Regions from separate parts of the Homo sapiens genome. Here all the other regions are linked to region 1. The links come from fine-mapping of genetic effects on gene expression. A gene starts in region 1. Each other region holds a variant in brackets. All regions are shown on one strand. Distances are between the middles of the regions.

Evidence for each region. PIP is the estimated chance that this variant, and not a neighbour inherited with it, causes the effect.
Region 2: its variant is fine-mapped to the expression of AFF4 in B cells (Schmiedel 2018, PIP 0.95).
Region 3: its variant is fine-mapped to the expression of AFF4 in whole blood (TOPMed, PIP above 0.99).

Annotation. Positions count from the first base shown.
Region 1 is chr5:132,958,865-132,970,333 of GRCh38, forward strand. It overlaps AFF4 (ALF transcription elongation factor 4), which reads right to left and starts at 4,770. Exons shown (of 21, transcript NM_014423.4): 1 at 4,395-4,770. AFF4-DT (AFF4 divergent transcript) reads left to right here and starts at 4,948. Exons shown (of 2, transcript NR_186175.1): 1 at 4,948-5,270; 2 at 5,377-5,826. RefSeq lists an enhancer at 1,797-2,298 and a silencer at 4,225-5,064.
Region 2 is chr5:132,906,151-132,911,150 of GRCh38, forward strand. The region is part of intron 5 of AFF4 (ALF transcription elongation factor 4); the gene reads right to left. Among named protein-coding and RNA genes, the nearest start is that of LEAP2, 35 kb to the left of the region's middle. The variant A/ATTT (reference allele first, on the strand shown) is at 2,624.
Region 3 is chr5:132,807,016-132,818,484 of GRCh38, forward strand. It overlaps SOWAHA (sosondowah ankyrin repeat domain family member A), which reads left to right and starts at 6,287. Exons shown (of 1, transcript NM_175873.6): 1 at 6,287-9,771. The coding sequence starts at 6,607. The coding sequence ends at 8,256. RefSeq lists silencers at 1,462-1,756, 7,322-7,391 and enhancers at 7,431-7,931, 7,932-8,432. The variant G/C (reference allele first, on the strand shown) is at 5,249.

The DNA of each region.
Region 1 (11,469 bases):
GGGTAATCAAACCATACTGGCTTTCCAGTGCAGTCTATTCATGTCAGTCCCTGATTCCTCCTACCCAACAACCTTGGGAAAAGAATACATGAAGTTCTTTTACCTGTCCTAGGAAATGATTATTGAAGTAATTAGTTTAAAACAGTATCCACTAATAAGCTACGTTTCCTTGCCTAAAAGCCACCAACACAGTTCATTAAGAACTCCAAGAGAGAAAAAGTTACATAAAATGCCTTCTGTCAGAACATTCCTCAGGTTACAGATTTTTTTTTTTTTTTTTGAGATAGAGTCTTGCTGTGTTGCCAGGCTGGAGTGCAGTGGTGCGATCTCAGCTCACTGCAACCTCCGCCTCCCAGGTTCAAGCGATTCTCCTGCCTCAGCCTCCCAAGTAGCTGGGACTACAGGCGCCACCATGCCCAGCTAATTTTTGTATTTTTAGTAAAGACGGGGTTTCACCATATTGTCCAGGATTGTCTTGATCTCTCGACCTCGTGATCCGCCCACCTTGGCCTCCCAAAGTGCTGGGATTACAGGCATGAGCCACCGGGCCCGGCAAGGTTACAGATTTTTTTAAATAAAGAATAGCTGATAAAGCAGGTAGCTAAGATTTTTTTTCTTCAAAAATAGAATAGGTAGTTCTAGTATTAAAATGTTTTGGAATACTCTGGAATTGAATTTGGAGGTTCTAATATTTTCTGTGCCCCAGTATCGTTAAAACTTTCAAGATATGATACCAGCGAAAATGAACATCAAGACAAACAGGAATGCAGATGATGTGCCAAAACTCAGTAACTGGAACATATATTACTGCCCTCTTCCGTGTACTAGAGTATCACTTCAAATAACCAAGAAGGGTATGTATAGGGAGTTAACAACAAGTAGGAGTGCTTTTCTTTTTTTTTTTTTTTTTTTTTTTTTGAGACGGAGTCTCGCTCTGTTGCCCAGGCTGGAGTGCAGTGGTGCGATCTCGACTCACTGCAAGCTCCGCCTCCTGGGTTCACGCCATTCTGCTGCCTCAGCCTCCCAAGTAGCTGGGACTACAGGCGCCTGCCACCACACCCAGCTAATTTTTTGTATTCTTTTAGTAGAGACGTGTTAGCCAGGATGGTCTCGATCTCCTGACCTCGTGATCCGCCAGCCTCAGCCTCCCAAAGTGCTGGGATTACAGGCATAAGCCACTGCGCCTGGCCAGTAGGAGCGCTTTTCTTAAACCAAAGGAAAAAGCAGCAAGGTAACAGGTCAGGTTAGCTTTAGGCAGTCTTTAGTCACTACACCTTCTTTCACAATAACTGAGACTAGCTAACACCCTCCCAGAAATCAAATAGAATTGTTCCAACTTATCAGAGGAAATGAATAAGGGAATGGGTAAAACATAATAAGGATGCAGGAGAGCTGGGAACCTTTATATCATATAGAAAAGTCTTCATAGTGAGATATCTGTAGAATAAAGCTAAAGTAAAAAAAAATCTAAGTCATCAATTTTTTATAGTACATGCTGTACTTCTGGGTCATTGTCCAGGTGTGCTCTCAATACTTAAGAATACCTCTTTGATTTTATTAAAAATACCACAAAGAAAAGTCCTCATAGATTTTGAACTCCATTCTAAACCAGTGGATGGCCACAAAGGAAGAAATACCTGTTTTATTTGTTCCTCTCAGGTACACATAAAACTACGGCATTTACCTTACCTTCTCAAAAAAGGCAAAATATATAACTTTTAGAAAGCTTCATCTTCTGTCTCATCTTCTGAAACTGACAGGTTTTTCCCTTTCAAATACTGATCCTTTGCTCATACAGCTTTCTTTACATTACCTTTTTGTGAAATCTTAGATAAGTTGATAGAACAACAATTTCAAGTTCAAAATATTATCACATTCAAATTCAATCTAGTAATTGTGTAAAATACTGAGGAAGATAAAAAGAGGAATAAATATAGTACTTCCTCAAAGACCCTGTAACAGATCTGTAAGAAAATTATTATGCATCCCTCAATATCTGCAAGAGACAGGGAAAAAAAGAAAATTACAGTGCAAAACATATAGTAGGCTTCTGCTTGTTTGAGACATCGCCTAGGTTGGCCGGGCGCAGTGCTCATGCCTGTAATCCCAACACTTTGGGGAGGCCGAGGCGTGTGGATCACGAGGTCAGGAGTTCGAGACCAGTCTGACCAACCTGCTGAAACCCCGTCTCTACTAAAAATACAAAAAACATTAACTGGGAATGGTAGTGTGTACCTGCAATCCCAACTACTCAGGAGGCTGAGGCAGGAGAATCGCTTGAACCCAGGAGGCAGAGGTTGCAGTGAGCAGAGATGGAGCCACTGCATTCCAGTGGTGTGATCTCGGCTTACTGCAACCTTCGCCTCCCAGTTCAAGCGATTCTCAAGCGATTCTCGTGCCTCAGCCTCTGGAGTAGCTGGGACTACAGGCATGTACCACCATGTCTGGCTAATTTGGTTCTCATGCCTCAGCCTCTCAAGTAGCTAGAACTACAGGTGTGCACCACCACACCTGGCTAATTCTTGTATTTTTAGTAGAGACGGGGTTTCATTATGTTGGCCAGGATGGTCTAGAACTCCTGACCTCAGGTGATCCGCCCACCTCGGCCTCTCAAAGTGCTAAAGTGCTAGGATTACAGGCGTGAACCACCAGGCCCGGCTGCAGAATATATTGCTACAAAAAGGGTACAATAACTCAAGAGTACACAGAAGAGAATGTATCAACCTGAATGTGAGAATCTGACAAGTAGAAAGTGACTCAGAACAAAAATATTCAATCTTTAAGAATTCTTAATTACACAGCTTCACCTTACACTCCCAAACTGTAGATCATGTTCCAATTAACACAGCTGGGCTCTTTTTTCAGACACCCCATCTTGTCCCCACTTGAAGCAAAATTTTATTTAAAGTAAAATTTGCCTACTGTTTCTAGAGAGTTAACAAAAATCAAAGTACCAGCCTGCAAACCACCGCAAATTGAATGAAACTGCTGGTAATAAAAAAAGAAAAATTTGACTGCTTCCAGGTTTTTAGTAAGTTAACTCTGAAAGATAACTTAAAATAACTTACTGGGAATTTTTCTTATATTTAGGAGCTGAAAGATGCAGTGATAATAAGGAAAACGAATCTGAGAAATTTAAAGAAGCCAGCTTTGTTGAAAACCAAGTGGCCACTTGCCAACACTTCTTTATGCACGTATGACCAAAGATGATTCTAGGCAGACTCACAGACCACAAAGGCTCTTTATCAAATCCCAAATTAAGAAAGTTCTCATAAATATTTCAATTTTGATAAGTTAAAGACCAGTTAAGTTTTAAAAAGCACTTTATGAAGTGCAGAATCAATACAGAAACGAAGCTTTGCGCTTTTCATATCTGAGCCCGAAAAACAGCACACATTTTATGTTACATTTACAGTCTATTCACAGACACCTATAGCTTAGATTCCATCAAGAAAAACACTGGTCAATGGAAAAGTGACTGGCCTTAGTATAAAATTTCCATGTGGCCAGCAGGGAAGAAACCGCATAATTCTGAATTACAACTGACAAAACTACGAGAACCCTAAATCGAACTCTTCGCCTTGAACTCCATATACAAACATTTCAGATTCGTACTTCCACTTCCTGAAAATAATACTGTTTGTAAACGAAAAGGCAATAAGGTTACTCCCAAAACTCCTGTACTCCATGATCCATCCTCAAAGAGTGGAAGGAACAGCAAAGTAGAAGGAACAAAGCACTGACGTCAATTACGAGATTAACCCCAAGCACAGGCAGCTGGAGGAAAGGCCTAAACATCAATATCCACGCACAAGCTACTGGGATAACTAGGTAACAGACCGATTCAGAAGTTGTAGGGGAGGGTATTCGAGTATTATACCCCCACGTTCCCATTTTTAGTCAATCCCCTTCGCAAGTCGAAGGCGGAAATTTTTCCTTCTTTTTTTTTTTTTTTTGCGGGGGTGGGGGTGTGGGAGAGGTGCGCAGGATCGCGAGAAGGAAAGCGAGAACTAGCTGGGTAATGTTAGCCAGAATCTGGGCCTATTTTCTCTTTAATTAGACATAATTTGAAATTGAGGAGGATATGAAAAAGTAACAAATCAGCCGATGGAACGTCTGAGGAAAGAAAGAGGAAAGGAGAAACACTAAACGGATGGATTTCTGGGAATTTTTGTTAGGATTGGGTTAGCTTTTTTTATTTTCTTATCTTTGCGGGAAGGTGGTGGGGTGGGACGCGCAGATGAGAGGAGGGGTGACGCCTGATTGAGCAGCCCCAGCCCGGAGGGTCTCCCCGAGGCTCCCCGCAGAACTTGCGGGCCCCCACCCCCACCCGGCCCCGGCCACAACCCCCGCGGCCCGGCCCGGCCCTGGGTCAGTCTGTCGGCCCTTCTTACCTCCAGTCCCGGCTCCGCTAGGCCCGAACCATCTCCTGGCTGCGGCAGTGGCGGCGCCGGGCCTGCACCTTCACCGGACGCGCATTCGAGCCCGCCCAGGGGGCGGTGACAGGCTGCCAAGGGCGAGGGGCTCCGGGAGGCGGCGGGGGTTCCGGAGGCCTCGACAAACGAAGGCGGCGTCGGCGGCGGCGGCAGCGATGCGCCTCACACGGAACAGGCGTAGGCCCCGCACCGCTCCATGACGGTCGGGCCCGGGCTGGGACAGCTGACTGAGGCGGCGGGGGCGGGTTAACGAAGACCTGGCACCAGGATCCCCGCCCCGTCCGCTGGCGGCGGCGACGGCAGCTGGACTCCTGCAGCCAGGGCTGTGACTGACGCAGCGGCCGTGCCACCATGTGACCAAGACCGGGCGGGTGCGGGGCGTCACGTGATGCCTCTGCGCCCCTCCCCGCTGGGGGAGTAGGGGGCGGGGGTCTGTGGGCCGGCTGGGCCGGGAGGCGACGCCCGGGGTGGTGACGTTCCCGGCTGTGGGGTCTGATGACCCGGGCCAGGCAAAGGACCCGCCCGAGCGGTATAGGCCTGAGCCTCTGGGCACTGCGGCCGCGTCCGGCAGGGCTGCCACGGCAGTACAGGGCCTGCACATCCGGGAGCTCACGCCCTCCTGCGCGTAGCCCGCTAGTGAGGTTCCGAAGGGCGGGGCCGGGCCGAACCGGATATGCCGGTTCTGGGGCTCAGGTGACAAACCCAGGCCTTCCGCCCCTCGCCTCTGGTGGGGATCCGGCCCAACCCGGAGCTTCCTAGACTTGCTTCCAGGTGTCGAAGCCTCGAGTCCTCAAGAGGTCCAGCAAAAAGGCAAAGGACGCAGGAGGCTGTTCGGTATTTCCAGTAAACTTACCCTAAGAAGCCAAACCGTCCCTCTTTCTTCGTCATTTAAACATCTTCTGCCACTAATGTTTTCCTTTTCATTTATTTATTGAGATAGATCTCGCTGTTGTCGCCCAGGCTGGAGTACAATGGCGGGATCTCGGCTCACTGCAACCTCCGCCTCCCGAGTTCAAGCGATTCTAGTACCTCAGCCTCCGGAGTAGCTGGGATTAAAGGGGGGAGCCACCACCTACGGCTAATTTTTGTATTTTTAATAGAGACACGGTTTCACCATGTTGGCCAGGCTGGTCTCGAACTCCTGACCTCAACCAATCCACCCGCCTGGGCCTCCCAAAGTGTTGGGATTACAGGCGTGAGCCACCGCACCCGGCCCACTAATGTTTTTCTTCAGCATATCATTCTGAACACTTCTTTCACCTCTAAACATCTACTATTTCTTTTAAGCTTCACTCTTTATATGCATTTTCTCTATAGAGCTATATAAATTAGGAAATGTCTTAATAGAAAACTCAAAACATGACAGAATAAAAAATAATTGATTCTCCCATCTCTGTCTGTTAGCTGTTTCAGTCCTGGAAGGCAATCACTTAGCATTTAATAATGTATCTTTCCCTACATATTTGTAAGTAATACATTAAAATATAGGGATACTTCTTTTTACACAAAAGGTAACACACTATATACGCTGTTCAGTCCTTTTTTTCTCACTTCAAATATCTTGGATAGGCTGGGCACAGTGGCTCAGGCCTATGATCCCAACACTTTAGGAGGCCGAGGGGGGCTGATCGCTTGAGACCAGGAGTTTGAGACCAACCCCGGCAACATGGCAAAACCCCATCCCTATGAAAAATACAAAAATTAGCCGGGCGTGGTGGTGCATGCGTATAGTCCCACCTACTCTGGAGACTGAGGTGGGAGGATCACTTGAGCCTAGGAGGTCGGTGCTGCAGTGAGCCGGGAGCTTGCCATCCAGCCTGGATGAGAGTGAGACCCTGTCTCAAAAAAAGAAAAAAGAAAAAAATGTCTTGGACATCCTGCCATATCAGTATATAATGAACTACCTTTTTCTTCCTAGAGGCAGAATAATATTCCACTTATGCAAACATCCTAATTTATTTAACCAATCCCCTACAGGTGGATATTCCGCTTGTTGCCAAGCCATTACTATTACATGCTAAGCTGCAATGAATAACCTCATACAAGACAGGGCAACATAGTGAGACCCCATCTCTACAAAAAATAAAAAATTAGCCGTTTGTGGTGGCACAGGCTTGTGGTCCTAACTACTAGAGAGGCTGAGGTGGGAGAATCGTTTGTACCCAGGAGATGAAGGCTGCAATGAGCCCTAATCGCACCACTGCACTCCAGTCTCAGTGACAGAGCAAGACCCTGTCTCAAAAAAGTTAAAATAATTAAAAACGAAAAACAACTCCATATAATGAGCAAATTATACCTGTATGATAAATCCTTAGCCTGGAATCTTTAGATCAAAAGGATTTTTAATTTTGATAGATATTACCAAATTATCCTACACAGAAATTGTGCCTATTTCATTTACTTGCTTTCAAATTCTGCTTAAGAAGATTTACAAGGCTGTATAGGTTGGAGGGTTGAGGGGATGGAGAGTGGCAAAAGAAAAGAATATTTGTCACTTTACACCGTAATAATTTTTTTTTTTTGAGACAGAGTCTCGCTCTGTCGCCCAGGCTGGAGTGCAGTGGCGCCATCTCGGCTCACTGCAAGCTCTGCCTCCCAGGTTCACGCCATTCTCCTGCCTCAGCCTCCCCAGTAGCTGGGACTACAAGTGCCCGCCACTACGCCCGGCTAATTTTTTTGTATTTTTAGTAGAGATGGGGTTTCACCGTGTTAGCCAGAATGGTCTCGATCTTCTGACCTCGTGATCCACCCGCCTCGGGCTACCAAAGTGCTGGGATTACAGGCGTGAGCCACCACTCCCGGCCACACCATAATAATTTTGATTAAAGATGAGTATTAAGGTGCAAATTGAAAATATGTAACAAACTTTAAGTTTCCTTGCTTATTCTGAAGTAAATGTTATTTGGCTAACGCAAATAATAATATGCTTTTGTTCCATAAAGGATAGTGATACTTTTTCAATACAAAATGAAACCTTATTTAAAAACCAAAAAGGGGAGGAATGGCCAGTATAGCCTTTTATTTGGCATTATTCTGCAAATAAGAAGTTTCCGGCCAGGTGTGGTGGCTCATGCTTGTAATCCCAGCACTTTGGGAGGCCAAGGCAGGCAGATCACCTGAGGTCGGGAGTTCCAGACCAGCCTGACCAACATGGGGAAACCCAGTCTCTACTAAAAATACTAAAATTAGCTGGGCGTGGTGGCCAGTGCCTATAATCCCAGCTACTCAGGAGGCTGAGGCAGGAGAATCACTTGAATCCAGGAGGCCGAGGTTGTGGTGAGCCAAAACCTTGCTGTTGCACTCCACCGTGGGCAGCAAGAGCAAAACTCCATCTCAAAAAAAAAGTTTCCTCTGTTTCAGCAAATAAAAGAAAAAGTTCCTAAAATTATTTCTAAGTTTTTAATATTTTAATATTGTATCATTTTGTTTAAGAAGTTACATCTGTTTTAACAAAGTGAATGTTCTGTCTCTAACTTCATGTTCTAGAACAGTGTAAGACTACTGTGCAGAATGGAGAAATTGCAGAAAATGACGTACCATAAAACTAAAAGAGAAACAAAGGCCGGGCACGGTGGTTCATGCCTGTAATCCCAGCACTTTGGGAGGCTGAGGTACGTGGATCACAAGGTCAGGAGTTCAAAACCAGCCTGGCCAAGATGGTGAAACCCTGTCTCTACTAAAAATACAAAAATTAGCTGGGGGCAGTGGCAGGCGCCTGTAATCCCAGCTACTCAGGAGGCTGAGGTAGGAGAATTGCTTGAATTCGGGCTTCAGAGGTTGCAGTGAGCCAAGATCGTGCCACTGCACTCCAGCCTGGGCGACAGAGGGAGACTCTGTCTCAAAAAAAAAAAAAAAAAAGAAACAAAAATCTCAAAGCAAAATATGATTGTTTTACTAGCATGCAAGATTTTAACAAAGGATTTAGGCCAGGCACGGTGGCTCATGCCTGTAATCTCAGCACTTTGGGAGGCCACAGCAGGTGAATCATCTGAGGTCAGGAGTTCGAGACCAGCCTGGCCAACATTGCGAAATTCTGTGTCTACTAAAATACAAAAATTAGCTGGGCACAGTGGTGTGCATCTATAATCCCAGCTATTTGGGAGGCTGAGACAGGAGAACTGCTTGAACCCGGGAGGCAGACGTTGCAGTGAGCCAAGATTGTGCCATTTACAGTCCAGCCTGGGCAACAGAGCAAGACTCTGTCTCAAAAAAAAATAAAGATTTAATGTATATTGTTAGAGTAGCAATACTTAGTAACTGAGTACTGTTTTTAAGTTAGGTTTTTGAAGGTAAAATTTACATATCATAAAATTCATCCTTGGCTGGGCGTGGTGGCTCATCCCTGTAATCCCAGCACTTTGGGAGGCAGAGGTGGGCAGATCACTTGAGGTCAGGAGTTTCAGACCAGCCTGGACAACATGGTGAAACCCATTCTCTACTAAAAATACAAAAATTAGCCAGGCATGGTGGCGCACACCTGTGATCCCAGCTACTCAGGAGGCTGAGGCAGGAGAATCACTTGAACCTGGTAAGTGGAGGTTGTGGTGAGCCGAGATCTTCCCACTGCACTCCAGCCTGGGCAACAGAGTGAGAATCCGTCTCAAAAAAAAAAAAAAAGTATATAATGTACAGTTTTATGAGTTCTGACAAATGCATACAGTTGTGTAACTACCACCACAGTCAAGATATAGAACATTTCAATCACCACAAAATATTCCCTCTTGCCCCTTCGTAATGAACCCTTCATTTCAACCCCAGTTCCTGGAAAACATAGATCTACTTTTTGTCCTTATACCATTACCTTTTCCAGAATATCAAACAAATGGAATCATGCAGTATATAGCCTTTCAAGTCTGGCTTCTTTCACTTGGTATAATGCTTGTGAAATTTATCCATTGTTGTTTTCATGTATCAGTACTTTCTTTTTTTTTTTAATCACTGAATAGTATTCCATTGTGTGGATATAACATAGCTTGTTTAGCCATTAATCAGTTGAAGAACATTTGGGTTGTTTCCATTAACAAAAAACAATTAGAAGTCATTGTAGAAGTCCAAAAATAAAATAAAATAAAAATTATGAATAAAGCTACTATAAATATCCATGTACAAGGTTTCATTTGGGCCTTAAATGATCTCCACCAATATTTTCTGAAAATCACATCTAGATATAGGAACTACCAAGTCACAACTACAGCTACGTAAACATTATTCCATATTATTTTAGAAACTCAGATAATTTATTCATTATTTATCAAATATTTATTAAACATCTACTATATAGCAGGTATTGTTCTAAGCACATGGATAAGACAATTGTCAGATACTAGCTCCCCCAAAATACCACCAAGACAACCCATTGGCGAAACCCTGTCTCTACTAAAAATACAAAAAAATTAGCCAGGCGTGGTGGCGGACGCCTGTAATCCCAGCTACTTGGGAGGCTGAGGCAGGAGAATTGCTTGAACCCGGGAGGTGGAAGTTGCAGTGAGCCGAGACTGCACCATTGCACTCCAGCCTGGGTGACAGAATGAGACTCTGTCTCAAGAAAAAAAAAAGCAAAACTGAGTTATTGTTCACTTCAATAAAAAAGATCACTACCTTAACACAGTCTCAGTAACATCTTTAAGGGGGAAAGCAAAGTTGGAATATTTATAAGGTTTGGGGATCTGATTTAAGAGAGTTTTTCAATTCAAGGGGCTTGATTACAACTGGGTAAGAATCATGATACATTGGGATTTGTGGACATAGTAAGGAAAGGTTTTTTTTGAGACAGAGTTCTGCTCTTGTCACCCAGGCTGGAGTGCAGTGGCGAGATCTCTCGGCTCACTGCAACCTCCGCCTCCCAGGTTCAAGTGATTCTCTGGCCTCAGCATCCTGAGTAGCTGGGATTACAGGCGCCCACCACCACGCCCAGCTAATTTTTGTATTTTTAGTAGAGACGGGGTTTCGCCATGTTGGCCAGACTGGTCTCAAACTCCTGACCTCGGGTAATCCACCTACCTCAGCCTCCCAAAGTGCTGGGATTATAGGCGTGAACCACCGCACCCGGCCAGAAAAGGGTTTTAAAGAGTCTGGGATAGTGTATTAGTTTTCTACTGCTGCAGTAATGAATTACCACAAATTTAGGGGCTTCAAACACCACAAATGTGTTATCTTACAATTGTGTCAATAGAAGTCTGACACCAGTCTCACTTGATTAAGACAATGTATTGGCAAGACTGTTGCTTTCTACAAGCTCTAAGGGAGAGTCCTTCCCTTTTCCAGCTTCTAGAGACTGCCCTCATTCATTGGCTTGTGACCCTTTCCTCTGTCTTCAAAGAAAGCAGTGGCTGGTTGTGTTCTTTTAAAATCACATCACTTTGACTTTCTATTCCATCTCCATTATTTATTTTATATATATAAAAATATATATTTGGCTGGGCGCAGTGGCTCACACCTGTAATCTCAGCACTTTGGAAGGCCGAGGCGGGTGGATCACGAGGTCAGGAGATCGAGACCATCCTGGCGAACACAGTGAAACCCTGTCTCTACTAAAAATGCAAAAAATTAGCCGGGCGTGGTAGCACATGCCTATAGTCCCAGCTACTCGGGAGGCTTCGGCAGGAGAATGGCGTGAACCCAGGAAGCGGAGCTTGCGGTGAGCGGAGATGGAGCCACTGCACTCCAGCTTGGGTGACTGAGCGAGACTCTGTCTCAAAAAAAAAAAAAAAATTAGCCAGGCGTGGTGGCAGGTGCCTGTAGTCCCAGCTACTCGGGAGGGTGAGGCAGGAGAATGGTGTCAACCTGGGAGGCGGAGCTTGCAGTGAGCCAAGATCACATCACTGCATTCCAGCCTGGGCAACAGAGTGAGACTCCATCTCAAAAAAAAAAAAAAAAACCATATATATATATATTTCTTCTTATTATTTTGGGCCAACTCAGATCATTCAGAATCTCATCTACTTGTTTTAAGGTCAACTAAATAAACAACCTTAATTTCATCTGCCACCTCAATTCCCCTATGCCATATAAAATAGCATATTAGGGCCGGGCG
Region 2 (5,000 bases), 56 kb before region 1:
ACCCTGGTAAGAATGCGAAATGGTACAGCTGCTTTGGAAACATTCTGGCAGTTCCTCAAATAAGTAAACACAGAGTTACCACATGACCCAGCCATTCCACTCTTAGGTACACAACCAAACAAAATGTAAACATATGTCCACACAAACACTTCTACATAAGTGTTTATAGCAATATTATTCATAACAGCCAAAAAGTGGAAACAACTCAAATGTCCATCAGCTGATGAATGTATAAACAAAATGTGATATATACTTATACACTGGAATATTATTTGGCCATAAAAAGGAATGAAGTACTGTTACATGCTACAACTTAGATGAATCTTAAAAACATAATGTTAAGTGAAAGAATATAGTCACAAAAGACCACATACTACATTATACTATTTATATAAAATGTTTAGAACAGAGAGATCTATAGAGATAGAGTAGATTAGTGGTTGCTTAAGGCTAGGAAGGTAGAGGGAAAGAGGGATAACAGCTAAAGGGTACAGTTTCTTTTTGAGTTGATGATTTATAAATAAACTCAAAACTACTGAACTCTACACTTGAAGTAGGTGAATTACATGGTAAGTGAATCACATCTCAGTACTGCTGTTAAAAAACTGTATATAGAGCAGTGGGCAAGAGGTCACTTTTGTGACTTTTGTTTAAAATGAAGATTCCAGGATGGGTGTGGTGGCTTATGCAGGTAATCCCAATACTTTGGGAGGCTAAGCAATGAGGATAGCTTGAGGCCAGGAGTTCAAGACCAGACTGGGCAACATACCAAGATCCTATCTGTACAAATAATAAAAATAAAATAAAATGAAGATTCCTTTACCCCCTCAAATTGTTTATTGTCTTATATTCATTTACTTGGTAAATGGCCTAAAAGTTAATAGCCCCATATTCCAAATAATCTGATTTATTTGTCTTATATCTGACAATAGTCAGCAGGTCCACAAATACTACTGGATTCTGTCTCTTAAACATCCACCAAAGGCGAGACCATCTGAACCGGAAAGACTTCAGGTCTTCATCTTGTTTACCTACAATGGCCTTCTAATGGATCTTCCTAGCTCTAGTTTATCTCCTTTACTCAGCTATAGCCTCCCTTCTACAGCCTGTAGAAGTTTACCCTTCTACAGCCCAAGTCTTAGTATGCGTCATCACTGCTCTCCTATTTTTCATAGAACTTCCCAATGACTCTTTGTTTTTTCCTAAGGATGAAACCCAAACTCTCTGGCAACACACTTACTCATGTATCAAAGTACTGAGAAAACAATGATAAGCAAAAACTGACAAGGGCCCTGCCCCCATGGAGCTTAACACCTATTTGAATGTCAATAATTACTACCTTTGCAAGTACTCACGCAAATCAAAGTAAAATGGCAACTGTAATAAACACAATGAAGGGCAAATACACATAATTATATTGAGTTTGTAATTGTGCATGCATGTGTACCTGTGTGCTTGTATGCATGTGTGCATATGTGTGTGTGTGTGTATGATCTAGCCAGGAAGATGAGCAAAGGCTTCCCTGAGGAACTGCCATTCAGATTGAAATTTGAAGGATATATAGGAAATAAACTGGGAAAGGAAGAGATAGGCTAAGTGCCATAGGGAGAGAGAAAACATGTGTAAAGTCCAGCTTAAAGGGAAGAGCATGGCTTGTACAAGGAACTTAAAGGCAGCCCACAGAGAGGAAAAAGTAAAGGTGGAAGAGTGGTGAGATATGAGACTGAAGACCTAAAATGCTAGATCACACAGTTTACAGACTTATAGACCATATTAAAGACCTGTGTGTGTGCAGCTTATTAAGTAGGAGAGTTACACAACTACATCTGCACATTGTGAGGATCATCTCGCCTACTAAGTGGAGAACAGTTTTAAGAAAGCTAGAATGGAGTTAAGGATACAAAATGAGGTTACTGGAGTAGTACCAGTAGGAGATAACTACAGCTTAAACAAGTTTGTCTTCCAGCTTTTTTTTTTTTAATCATATACTCCATTACTAAGAAATTTTTCCATTTGTATCTCCAAAATATGTATAGAATATGCATTACTACTTATGTATAAGATTAAAATACTGCAATTTCAAAAGCATAACAAAAATTAAATACCATTTTTAGAGTAATTTTTAAATATATTTATGAATGACAACAAAACCTTTCTTACACACAAAAATATAATGCTTCAAAGGTATGACGCTAAGATGGACTTATTTTTGATATCTGGTTTCACTGGATGCCACAAAGATATAGTTATACTCATGGAAGAAATACCATGCTTATTAAATCACAGTAACAAAATTTCAGTCCTATACATTAATTATGTAAAGAATTCTATTGAAGTTGAATTAGATTTCCATGTTCCTTGTTGTAAATCATTTAGAAAAATAAATTAGAAGGATGCATTTTATTATTTTTAGCAAATAGGTTCAAACCACTGATTAGAAATTTTTTTTCAGCTCTTTACAGTATTCATATTAGAACTGTGGTTTTTTGGTAACAAAAAACTAAAAATACATAAACAATGACAATATTATTGTTATTTTCCTAGCTTGAATGTATGTATATGTATATACACACACACTCATATATAATCTATACACTATATATATACATATATATATATATAT[A/ATTT]TATTTTTTTTTTTTGAGACGGAATCTAGCTCTGTCACCCAGACTGGAGTGCAGTGGTGTGATTTCGGCTCTCTGCCACCTCCAGCTCCCAGGTTCAAGCGATTCTCCTGCCTCAGCCTTCCAAGTAGCTGGGATTACAGGCACCTGCCACCACGCCCAGTTAATTTTTATATTTTTAGTAGAGACAGGGTTTCACTGTGTTGGCCACGCTGGTCTCGAACTCCTGACCTCGTGATCCACCCACCTTGGCCTCTCAAAGTGCTGGGATTATAAGCATGAGGCACCGCACCCAGCCGCTCAAGCATATCTTTTAGGGAAGCGGTTACTTCATTCATTGTTAAAACATCATCTTTTTTTTTTTTTTTTTTTGAGATGGAGTTTCACACTCCTGTAGGATGTTTCATACTTGTTGCTCAGGCTGGAGTGCAATGGCATGATCTCTGCTCACTGCAACCTCCATCTCTTGGGCTCAAATGACTCTCCAGCTCAGCCTCCCAAGTAGCTGGGATTATAGGCGCATGCCACCACGCCCAGCTAATTTCTGTATTTTTAGTAGAGATGGGGCCGCCATGGTGGCCAGGCTGGTCTTGAACTCCTGATCTCAGGTGATCCACCCGCCTCAGCCTCCCCAGGTGCTGGGATTACAGGCATGAGCCACCACAATAGGCCAACATCATCTTTACTCTGAAGAGAGAAGGGGGTTTAATTATTTTTTAAAAATACATTATGAAAAGATACATATAGCATATTTCGTGGTGGTGTGCGTGTGTGTGTGTGTATCTGTGTGTGAGATAGAGAGATTAAAAAGAGAGAGGTGTCTAACTCATTTTTAAGTGGGATAACTGATATCATGAAACAATTTCTATGTTAGTGTAAAAAATATTCAGATTCACTCCTCATTTCATTACAGAATATATTGTACAGAGCATGATTCTATAACTGAGTTGAAGATATTCACAGTTCCAGACATTTCTGGCTTCAACATCATTGTTCCAACACTGCAACTGTGCATAAACTGCACTTTTGCCATTACTCTTGCCTTGTCCTGGGTTCCTTTTTGTAATTCCTGTTAAAGCAGCTACTGTATCAACAGGTGGAAGGGGAAGGTAAAGAGGGAAGGAGATGGGGAGGAGAAGATAAGATTTGTGAAGCACCTAGGTAAAGAGGTTCTAGGTAAAGAACAGAATACAAAGAGAAGACAACTTACGTCTAAGTGTGATGCACACAACTACACATCCAATTAAACACTAATAAATAATTCCTATTGCTTTCTTTTGTATTATTGATTTCTACAACCAAATGTTTGGTACAGGCAAAACACATTTCTTGTTTCACACTTCCTTATAACACCCAGCAAAATACCAGGGAAAAATAGCAAATATGAATCAATCTTTAGTAAGTTTTATTCTAAACAAAAGGAGTGACTGATGAATCACATGGAACAGAGGGATTGAATTGTTTTTGTTTTTAAATGGGACCAATTCAAGGAGAGAGATGAATATACTAAACCAGCTCCCCAATATGATCCTAAACTTAGCACCATTTGCCGCCTGTGAACTGCTCTTTCAGACTCGTCAATGGTGTGAAGTGCTTTCTGATGTGTTCCTTATCAACCCACATCTTGCTAGCACTCCTATACTTCTCCTTCAAACTCTAATTGGTGTCACCTCCTGTAGGATGCTAACCCCAAATTCCCTAGGTATAACAACTTTCTCCCTTCTCTGTCCTCTCATTGGACTTGGTACATATAGTTAGTGCACATGGAGAGTAAGTACCTATTAAAGTATCACACAGAGCTTTTAGGTATATTACACATGAAGTTGTACCCACTTAAATTTGGAGAATGAGATAAGCTATCGGTAAGAAGCAACCCACCTTAGCAACAGTCAGTCAGTAGCTGAGGTGTCTCACAAACACCAAAATCTAAACACTGTTACTTGAGTATATACATCCAAATTCAGTTAACAAACATTCATTGAACAGCTACTTTGTGCCAGAACTATTCTAAGCATTGGCACAGCGTTTTCCTATGTTCTTTAAATACCCATCTTAGAGCAAGAACATTTAAATTGTACAGCGTTCTATCTCCAGTGTCAAGAACACTGCTGGAGGTTGTTCCAAACATGGTGAGTAAGTGCAAAGGCAATCAAAATCTTTAATATTCTCCAAACTATCACTGGAAAATCTCCCAAGCTATCCCCAACTATACCCATATTCTCTGCTTCCCTCTGGTGCCAATGAAGTAGTGGTGTTCTATTCTAAAGCTACTGTCCTCTACTTGGGCACTGAATCTCAATCACTCTTGTGAAGATTTCCTAAGGTTACCTCTTCTCTTTCCCATGGATCATTTGTTTTTCCCTTTCTACTAAGCCATCAG
Region 3 (11,469 bases), 150 kb before region 1:
CAGAGCGAGACTCCGTCTCAAAAAAACCACAAACAAAAAACACCTCATACCTGAGAAGGCAAGGGACTGAAAGGGATGATTAAAGATGGGTAGCAAAGGGCACCAACTGCTGGAGATTCATGAAGCCAGGACACAGCTTTCCAAGTCTCCGTGGACCAGGTCTGTGGCTCCCTACTTAGCAACCAAGCAATAGTCTGAGCAATCAGAGAAGCAGCAGCCTGAAAAATGAACTGCAGAGTCAAAAACTCAGTCTACAGCAGAAACACGTGAGCTGACACTTTCACTCAGATTTAGAAATAAAGTTCTTTTGACCTTAGAGAGAAGTGGGCTTAACAAGCTGCAGGCATGAGAGAGGTCCCCTTTGCTTCCCCTGGGCTGGAAGCAAGAACAAAGCACGATTTGTTCCGGAAGTTGACCGCAAAAGCTTGATATCTGGGCAAAGTCCCTTTACAGCCACTGCTGGGCAGCCCATCCCCCTCAAGTCCCTGGAGCTCCTGCCTCCTGGGACCGGAGGAACTCTTCTTTACAGATGAGATGTATTGGTGAGACACCAGGGGGCAGAGGTGGCAGGCTGCGTTGGATAAACGCAATGGAAGGAGCTGATTTGCACTGCCATGGTAGGGGAGAAGACATTTACAAACATTAAGCATCCGCTACAGCTCTTGGTGGGGCCTAGGCATGGGGTTCAGAGGGTAGTGTGGATTGGAATAAGGAATAGAACAGAACAGAATACAGACCAGGCGTGATGGCTCACGCCTATAATCCCAGCACTTTGGGAGGCCGAGGTGGGCAGATCACCTGAGGTCAGGAGTTTGAGACCAGCCTGAACAACATGGTGAAACCCTGTCTCTACTAAAAACACAAAAATACCATTGGCAGGCATCTGTAATCCCAGCTACTCAGGAGGCTGAAGCAGGAGAATCACTTGAACCCAGGAAGCAGAGGTTGCAGTGAGCCAAGATCGTGCCATCGCACTCCAGCCTAGGGGACAAGAGCGAGACTTTGTCTCAAAAATAATAATATAAATGTAATGTAACATAGCATAAGATTATGAAATTATTTTATTTTATATTTAAATATTGTAGCTTTAAAAATTACAGAGGGCCTCTACCCTGATCTGCTTCATATTTAAGATACTGAGATAAGAACAAATAGCCTTCCTATTTCATTCTCCATGTTCAAGACACATCATGGAATTTTATCCTTGCTATAAATATACATTTTATATTTGATTTTCCTAATGTTGCGGGCAAACTGCTGGGTCACTGGAAGAATTGATTCTCTGGCCTCACTGGCAACAGGGCATCAAAACTGAAAAGCAGCCTGGGGAACTGGATGTCATTAGCATCCTCACTGTAATGTTTGCTCAAACTATAAACTTATCACTTAAAATATTAAAGCAGAGTATGTTCAGAAGCACAAGCATAAATAAAAGTTTAAGTAAGGTATTTGTGAGGAGTTTTTCCCTACTTTATTTATTAAACATTCAGAACATCAATTTTAAATCATCAGTGACCTAACTTTGCATGGTAAATGAGCATAGGCAGGTAGCCTGGGGTTCCAGTTTGAGCTCAGCCAATTGTTAACTGTGACCTTGGCCAAGTTTCCTTATGTAGCTCAGAGCCTGAAGCCTGTTAAGCACTGTCAATAAACGGCTTGTACTAGCAATTCCTGTTCAATCAGTATTTAATCCTTGTCTACTCTTAGCGATCATGAAACCACCATTGCAAAATTATAACTGAGACAGTGAAAGAGATCTGATCTTACTAACTCCATCTTGCTTCTAACCTCCAAGTTGTCCTTGTTCATTCCTGAGCATAGGCCAAATTAACTTTGGGAGAAACTTAGTTTATAGTTTGAAACAAAGATGGTAACAGCCCTTTCCCAAAATGAACTAGACTGCCTTTGTAGAATTAACAAATTAGCCAAAAGATTAGATTATGGTTTAGAAGTCAGGCAGCTGGAGGCTGCAAGATTCTAAACCTCCCCAAATTGCCCCTGGGGATAACGTCACTATTGTGAAGCCTAAGATCAGTTCTTGAGATATTTTGCAGACCCTGTACTTGATGCATCAGCTGGCACCACCCAGGCTCGTAAACTGGCTCATCTGGTCTTGTAGCCCCCACCCAGGAGCTGACTCAATGCAAGAGGACAGCTTCAACTCCCTGTGATTTCATCTCTGACCTGACCGATCAGAACCCCCAATTCACTGGCCCCCCTACCCACCAAATTATCCTTAAAAACTCCAGTCCCTAAATTCTCAGGGAGACTGATTTGAGTAATAATAAAACTCTGGTCTTCTTGCACAGCCAGCTCTGTGTGAATTACTCTTTCTCCATTGCAATTCCCCTGTCTTGATAAATCGGCTCTGTCTAGGCAGTGGGCAAGGTAAATTAATCCATTGGGGGGTTACAATCATAGTCAAAATTAGTTCAAACCACATAAATCAATAATGATCTTTAACAGAGAGTGCTCTCCCTCATCTCTCTTCTTGGAGACAAGAGATGGTAACAAAAGTCCAAGTTGAAGCTTCACTACCTATGAGATCATGGAAATGACTTTTCAAGGAACACAACAATTGGCCCAGAAAAAGGTAGGAAAATAAAATATAAAAAGTAGCTATTGAAATGAAAATTAAAACAAAGGGAATATAACTTTAAAAGTGAAAACAAGACAATATAATGCAAGTTCTGTTTCTGAAGTATCTTTGGCACCCATCCACTGTCCGAGCTTGATAAGCCCTACCGTCTTCCACTGGACCCTGCCACTACCTCCCCAGGGTCCCCTCTTCCGCCCATTCGCCACACCAGTCTTGACTAAGGTAACATGGGTTCTTAGCAACACGCGGTCTAATCCCATGTGTACCAAATGGTGTAGATGGTTGTGTATATATCTATGGATGTACAGAGAAAAACTCCTCACAGCATAAACTAAAAAATATCAAGTGGCTCTCTAACATGTGACATATTCTTTTTATATTTTAGAAACTATTGAGAATTGGAAAAAACATTAATTCTATAATCAGAAAATAAAGCCACTTTTTAAAAAGAAGAAAGCAAGCTCTCAATGACATTCTACTGCAAACAGGGCAAAGTCCAAACTACCATTTAAGGCCCTTCACCCATCACCCCAGATGACTTTTCCAACATTATATTTTTCCATATCCCTGGCACACACCCTGAACTTCAAACACACTGGACACTCTTTACCCTGAATTCAGCCTTCATAGTCCCACTTTCTTTTTTTGTTGCCCAGGCTGGAGTGCAGTGGCACTATCTTGACTCACTGCAAGTTCTGCCTCCCGGGTTCACACCATTCTCCTGCCTCAGCCTCCCAAGTAGCTGGGGCTACAGGTGCCCGCCACCATGCCCGGCTAATTTTTTTGTATTTTTAGTAGAGACAGGGTTTCACCATGTTAGCCAGGATGGTCTCAATCTCCTGACCTCATGATCTGCCCACCTCCGCCTCCCAAAGTACTGGGATTACAGGTGTGAGCCACCACACCCGGCCCACAGTCCCACTTTCAAGCTTTCACCTATCCTGTTCTCATAGCCTGCCTCTTGGAGATGTCCCAGTCCTCCCTCTTCCCTATCCTTCCCCACCCCTTCACCCCCCATCCCCCACGTGCTCTGGTAAGTACCTGGAGCATTCATTTCATTTGGCTATGTCACATAATTAATTGTACTTAATGTTTTTCTCTTCTCCACTAAGCAGTAAGCTCTTCAAAGGCAGATTGTATCTTCTACCCAGAGTATCTGGCTTACAGCCTTGCACCCAAAGATATCCAATAGATGTTTGTTGAAATAAATTATTGAGGAATGCAGAGCACGATACACCTGAGGCAGTTTGCAGAAGGCTTTACAGGGGTGGGCCTTGAGGTGAGTCTAAAGAATGGGTAAGGTAGGGCAGGCGCAGTGGCTCACGCCTGCAATCCCAGCACTTTGGGAGGCTGAGGTGAGTGGATCACCTGAGGTCAGGAGTTCGACACCAGCCTGGCCAACATGGTGAAACTCCATCTCTACTAAAAATAAAAAATTAGCCAGGCATGGTGGCACATGCCTGTAATCCCAGCTACTTGGGAGGCTGAGGCAAGAGAATTACTTGAACCCGGGAGGCGGAGCTTGCAGTGAGCCAAGATTGCGCCATTGCACTCCAGCTTGGGCAACAAAAGCAAAACTCCATCTCAAAAGAAAAAGGGGGGGCGCTGGGGTAAGGCTAGATGCAGTGGCTCACACGTGTAATCTTTGGAGGCTGAGGTGGAAGGCTCGCTTGAGGCCAAGGGTTTGAGACAAGCTTGGGCAATATAAAAATAAAATTAGCTGGGTGTGATGCTGTTGCGTGTGATGGTGCGTGCCCTGCGAATTCTACTCCTAGGAGCCTATCCTAAGGAATTACTCAGAAAGGTGCACAAAGTCTTATATATCAACAGCATCATTTATAAGAATTAAAAACTAGAAACAATATAAACAATGAAGAACAAGAAAACAAAGTATAATACTACATTTATTTGATGCTATCATTAAAAGTTGTATGTTTTTGAAGACTAGACTAGCTATTGTCATTGGGAGGAATGCTCACAATATAAAGTGAGGGGGAAATGTTTAAATTGTTTGCATCTTGGGGACAGGGCTGAACTCAGAAATTGCCCCTGGGGATTGGATTGGGGAAAGGGGACCCTTTACATTTTAGTCTTCTGTTTTCCTTTTGAGTAATACTAATAGTAGTGACTATACTACTAATAATAATTCAAATGATTACTGTAAGCCAAGCATTATGCTAAGTCTTTTGTGTTTATTTTCTCACTTAATTCTCTCAACCATCTGAGCAGGTAAGTACTATTTTCCTCATTCCTTTACAGACAAGAAAGCTGAGGCACAGAGAAGTCAAGGCATTTGCCCAAGGTAGAGCCAGAACTCAAGTGTAGAATGTTGACTCCAGAGTCTTGTTTTCTCAGCTACTACAATATGCTGCTTCTGGTTAGATATATTTGTAGTACTGCAATTATTTATTTATTTATGAGACAGGGCTTGCTCTTGTCATCCAGGCTGGAGTGCAGTGGCGCCATCTCAGCTCACTGCAACCTCCACCTCCCGGGTTCAAGCGATTCACCTGCCTCAGCCTCCGGAGTAGCTGGGATTACAGGTGCGTGCCATCACACCCAGCTAATTTTTGTATTTTTAAGTAGAGATGGATTTCACCATGATGGCCAGGCTGGTCTCGAACTCCTGACCTCAGATCATCCGCCCAA[G/C]TCAGCCTCCCAAAGTGCTGGGATTAGAGGCGTGAGCCATCGCGCCCGGCCTGCATTTTAAATTAAGGAACTGATTCTACCTCTGCCAGGCAGTTCCCTCAACTAGAAACCTCTTCCCCGTCTACATAACTCCCTGATCTCCTTCAAGTCCTTGTTTAAATGTCACTTTCACAACGAGTACTATCCTGACTGCCCAGATCAAAATTGCAACCTGACCCTCATCCGTTATACCCCGCTGTGCTTTTTTCATAGCATGTATTTAGTATATCATATAGTTTTCGGATTCACCATATGCTTCTGTTCTCCTCCAACACATGAGCCCCACTAGGTCACGGGTTTTTAAATCTGTCTTGCTAACTGACGCATCTTAGCCAAAAAAAAAAAAAAAAAAGTCCTGGCACAAACTACGTGCTCAATACCTATCTGTGGAACAAACGAAGGTTTAAAACCATGGCATGACTCCGCATTGCTTTCTTACTTTAAAGCATAAACATACATACACACATGGGAGACAGGGAGAGGATATTTCAAAATGTTAATGGTGATTTCAAGTGATTTTTTTTCCTTCTTTATGTTTTCCTCTATGTTTTCCTGTTATGTTTATGTTTCCTGTGGTTTTATACCCCAAATTCTACGTGAAAATGTATTCTCTTACCATGAGAAAATTGCTTTTGAAAACGTCTCTCTAAACCTAGAGTAACGTGCATTGCCGCGCAGAGTGAATTGGTTTTGCTGTAAATCTCATGAAGCCGTTTTCCTGCATGAAACACAGTAAAAAAAAAAAAAAACTGGAGTGGTATTGACGACCTTTAAAAAAAAAAGATTGTTCTGAAATCATCGCTTGGTGTTTTGCAGTGGTTAAATGTTTATTAAAGGAATAAAAATCCATTCCTCCTTGGCGGACCGCGGCGTCCCTAGGGAACACACCCACCTAGCAACCGAGACCAGAGCTGGAGCGCTGCGCCTTTAATTCTGGGGCGGGCGGGGGGCGGCGGGAATTTCTGCTCCGGTTCCCTCTGCATCGCGGGGGCAGCTGTCACCTGTAAGGCGAGCGCGGCGCGGGGGATGGAAGCAGGCGCCCATTGGACAGAATACAAAGGCAGAAACCTACCCCGAAGGCCGGGGCCCGGCGGGGCGCTGGGGGTGGGCGCTCCCCGCGGCCCCCGGCGCCCTTCGCCCCGAGACGCCCCGGCCCAGCGGCACTGGCGCGACCGAGGTCCAGCTTCGGGGACACGCCCGGCTGGCCGCGGGGAAGGCACCAGGTGAGCGCGGCCGCGCCTCCCGGAACCCCGCTCCCGCGCGTCCCGCGGCGACGCGGCGCCCACCCGCCCCGGGAGCCAGGAACCCAGGGCCCCACCATGGCGCTGGCCGCCGCCGCCGCCGCTGCGGCTGCCGGGGTGAGCCAGGCGGCGGTGCTGGGCTTCCTGCAGGAGCACGGCGGGAAGGTGCGCAACTCCGAGCTGCTGAGCCGCTTCAAGCCGCTGCTCGATGCCGGCGACCCGCGGGGCCGCGCCGCCCGCAGGGACCGCTTCAAGCAGTTCGTCAACAACGTGGCGGTGGTGAAGGAGCTCGACGGCGTCAAGTTCGTGGTGCTGAGGAAGAAGCCCCGGCCCCCGGAGCCCGAGCCCGCACCCTTCGGCCCCCCGGGGGCAGCGGCCCAGCCGTCGAAACCCACTTCGACGGTCTTGCCGCGGAGCGCCTCTGCCCCGGGAGCTCCGCCCTTGGTCCGGGTGCCGCGGCCAGTGGAGCCGCCAGGGGACCTGGGTCTGCCAACAGAGCCACAGGACACCCCGGGGGGGCCGGCCTCCGAGCCCGCTCAGCCGCCCGGGGAGCGGTCCGCCGACCCACCGCTTCCAGCCCTTGAGCTAGCCCAGGCCACCGAGAGACCCTCCGCAGACGCGGCCCCACCGCCTAGGGCCCCTTCTGAGGCGGCATCGCCCTGCTCTGATCCGCCAGACGCGGAGCCCGGGCCCGGGGCAGCGAAAGGGCCGCCGCAGCAGAAGCCCTGTATGCTGCCGGTGCGCTGCGTCCCGGCCCCCGCCACGCTCCGCCTCCGGGCGGAGGAGCCCGGCCTGCGCCGGCAGCTGTCGGAGGAGCCGAGCCCGCGGAGCTCCCCTCTGCTGCTGAGGCGGCTCTCGGTGGAAGAGTCCGGTCTGGGCCTCGGCCTGGGCCCGGGCCGCTCCCCGCACCTGAGGCGCCTGTCGCGCGCCGGCCCGCGTCTGCTGAGCCCTGACGCCGAGGAGTTGCCCGCCGCGCCGCCGCCGTCCGCGGTGCCCCTGGAGCCGTCCGAGCACGAGTGGCTCGTGCGGACTGCCGGGGGCCGCTGGACCCACCAGCTGCACGGGCTGCTGCTGCGCGACCGCGGCTTGGCGGCCAAGCGCGACTTCATGTCTGGCTTCACGGCCCTGCATTGGGCCGCCAAGAGCGGCGACGGCGAGATGGCGCTGCAGCTGGTGGAGGTCGCGCGGCGCAGTGGCGCACCAGTCGACGTGAACGCACGCTCCCACGGCGGCTACACGCCGCTGCACCTGGCTGCACTGCACGGCCACGAGGACGCTGCCGTGCTGCTGGTGGTGCGTCTGGGTGCCCAGGTGCACGTGCGTGATCACAGCGGGCGTCGCGCCTACCAGTACCTGCGGCCCGGCTCCTCGTACGCGCTGCGCCGCCTTCTTGGCGATCCAGGCCTGCGAGGCACCACGGAGCCAGATGCGACCGGTGGTGGAAGTGGCAGTCTTGCTGCCAGGCGCCCCGTACAGGTGGCCGCCACCATCCTCAGTTCCACCACCAGTGCATTTCTGGGCGTCCTGGCTGACGACCTCATGCTCCAGGACCTGGCCCGAGGCTTGAAGAAGTCGAGCTCCTTCAGCAAGTTCTTGAGCGCCTCGCCCATGGCTCCACGTAAAAAGACAAAGATCCGCGGTGGTCTGCCAGCCTTCTCAGAAATCTCTCGTCGACCTACTCCGGGGCCTTTAGCTGGTCTAGTGCCCAGTTTGCCTCCAACAACCTGAAGGTCCCTGGGGCTACCACCTGGTTGATCTATCGTGGCCTGCTCGTCGCAGTCCAAACCCGCCCAAGACTGCAGCCCAATCAACGCCTGGAGCCTCATTCTGTTTCCAGCTTTGTCCAGGGCAGCCTGTTTTACCCAGATGGGCCTGCACCTCCAGCTTCTTTCTGAAGCATGACCCATCTCCAGAGATGGGATTTGAGAAATCAGTGAGAGCTTCCTATAAAGAACTCCAGGAGACAGGCCTGAACTCTAGAGGGAACTTGAAATCCAGGGTCAAAGGTTAAGGGGCAGCAGCTGGTCTGGCCCCTGAAAGCCTTCACCTGATGCCTCTGCAGCTACACAATCCCAAGACAGAGCTAGAGCAAGGGTCTCTTTAAATGTTGAAAGATGTTAGGTTGTCAGCTTTAAGATATGTGGTGGTTTTGTAATTTGATGCTTTTATTCTGTTTTTAAATTGAAATGAGGTAATGCAACTTTCGTAATAACCTTTTGGAATTATATTTTTCCACTTTTAGGCAAAGTGCTTAGACATTTTCAATTTTTTTTTTGCTAAATACTTTGGAATTCTATTTAAAAAATAGATGATCAAGATCTAAAGGAAATTAATCCCAACCAACAAACTTAAAAGTTTATCTACCTCGTTTTAGGCAATCAAGATTCTGGAGAGTCTTGAACACAGAATAACGATTGTGACCATTATGAATGTAACTAATTTCAGTTGTACTGTGAATGCTAAATATTTGCAAACAAGTACATCTTGAAAGTAAAGGTGACTTAGAGAAAAGAGACATTTTGACAGATACTTTTAATTTGTGGTTGTCTCCATCATGAAATAGAAACGTGTTTGGCACTTGTGGGTGGCTATTTTGATTTGGCATGACTACTTAATTTTTTAAAAAAATTGTGGTTTGTGAATTGCACCTTTGTGCCATGTTTCTGAATCTGGTTTTCAAATCCAGTGGAGCCTTTCAGTGAAATAGGTGACTATTAAAAAAGTAATAGTATTACAGAAAAATGAGCGATTAAATAGTAATGGATACAATTAAGGAGCAACTATTTTATATGACTGTTCTGTACAAACAAAAAGTATGTAATACCCATTTTAAAAAACCATTTGAAAGTAGACAACTTATTCCAAAATAGCAAATGCAGAATCTCTGCTCAGTGAGCTTGGATGAGTGGCTTAACTTCTCTGGGCCTTTGTTCCTATCTGTAAATGAGAAAGTTTGTAGATATTGCCAAGATTTCCCAGGCTCAATACAGTGTAATTATTTTATGTTTTAAAGATATGAAATCTGTTTACTCAACCAATTTTTTAAATGTCATATTGTGATAATGCTCTGCTTTTGCAAATTGTGTTTGCATGTCATTAGTTATATCAAATAGTTTTGTGGCATGGGGTAGTGGAGCTTCCCTCCCCACCCCCATATGTATCAGTGAAGCCTTTGAAATTACTTAAGGCAGTCTTTCATGGAATGTTTTGATTGAGCAATGAAATAAACAGTCCTCCATTTTGTTTCTGCTTGAGTGGTGATGTACTTCCCTTAAAAATTGTACAGTTTTTGCTATTGTATTTTTCTTTTCTTTTTATCTAATTTCCTTCATTCTTCTGCCTCTTTCAAGCATTCTGTTATTGAAAGAAGTTGGATTGCTCTGCAAAGTAAAGGAGTCAACCACACATGGATATCGTAATGGAGAACTGTAGATAAATGTGGGCCCTGATGTGACCTTCCCACCTTCCTTGCCTGGAACTCTGCATAAATTATTTTAAAATGCAAATTAAATCTTCTGCCTCTGCTGAAAAATTGTAGGAGACACAATTATAGCAATTGGAGTAGCTGACAGTCTAGAAAACAGAATAAAATACTAGAGATTTTCCATGGTAAAAGAGACACCTGACTCAGACAGGGCCTCAGACAAAGGTCACAGACACAGGTATGACCTGCCTTGATAAAGACAACGTTTAAACCAGCAAAGTAGTAATAACAATAACTAATGTTTATTGCACACTTAAATCAGAGGAGGGTCATTTGAACTGCCAGAAGAATCTATGTGTTTCAGAAGAGTGTGCTGCAAGCCTTCCAAGTGAAGTAAAACATTTAGCAAGAGTTTAGGATCAATATACCTAAAGCTCAGGTGTTAGAAAACACTGCTTTTCCTTGCAGGCCAAAGCTTTCTGCAACTATAAGGTAAGCCGATAAGAAATTATAGTTTCATACGCATAGGGAAAGTTTTTAAGAATCATATATCACCTAGCAGGAGGCACACCGTTAGAAGGGTATTTTCAACACTAACAGAAAATAATTGTGAAGGCAATTTAGCTGACAAGAATTGTCACAGGGACGAAATCACGCCTTTTAATGAGGGAGAATTGTTGATGTAGATGGGTATGAGTCGTATCCATAGCAAGCTTTTAAGTAAAGTTTTACATATCCTTTAATGGAGGTTGGAGGTTATTCTTAAGCATGTCTCCCTTACCTAATGGAGATCCAGGGTAATGCATATACTGTATAACCTGTGCTGATTAAGTGCCAGGCACAATTCGAAACACTTTGCAGGTATTAATCGCAAGTTTATAAGGTATGTACTATTTGTATCTTGATTTTAAAGTGAGGAAACTGAAGCCTAGAGAAGTCATAAGTTACTTGTCTAGGCCTCACAGCTAGTAAATGCAGAGCTGGAATAGTCTCCTGGTTCTCTTTTTCATGACACTGTCTGCTATCCTATTGCAGGAAGCAGGGTGGGCTCATCTCAGCCCTTTTTACTCATTTAGTGTCTTTGGGCAAGTCACCCAGCTCCCCAAACTCCATCTTCCCTGTCTACGGGACAAAAGGCTTCCTGTACCTATTTCACAGGCTGTGGGGGAAGGAAGAGCACGTAGAATGAGTGGATAGAGCTCTTTATGAACTGCAACACCAATGTGGGGTGCCGAGTTGGTTCCAGGGGGTAAATGGCTGCATCCCAAAACCAAATAGCTCTGATTTGTGGATCTGCTTTACATGATCATTCTTTCTTTTTTTTTTTTTCTTTTTTGAGATGGAGTCTCGCTCTGTCACCCAGGCTGGAGTGCAGTAGTGCAATCTCAGTTCACTGCAACCTCTGCCTCCCGGCTTCAAGCGATTCTCCTGCCTCAGCCTCCCAAGTAGCTGAGATCACGGGCACGTGCCACCATGCCTGGCTAATTTTTTGAATTTTTAGTAGAGATGGGGTTTCA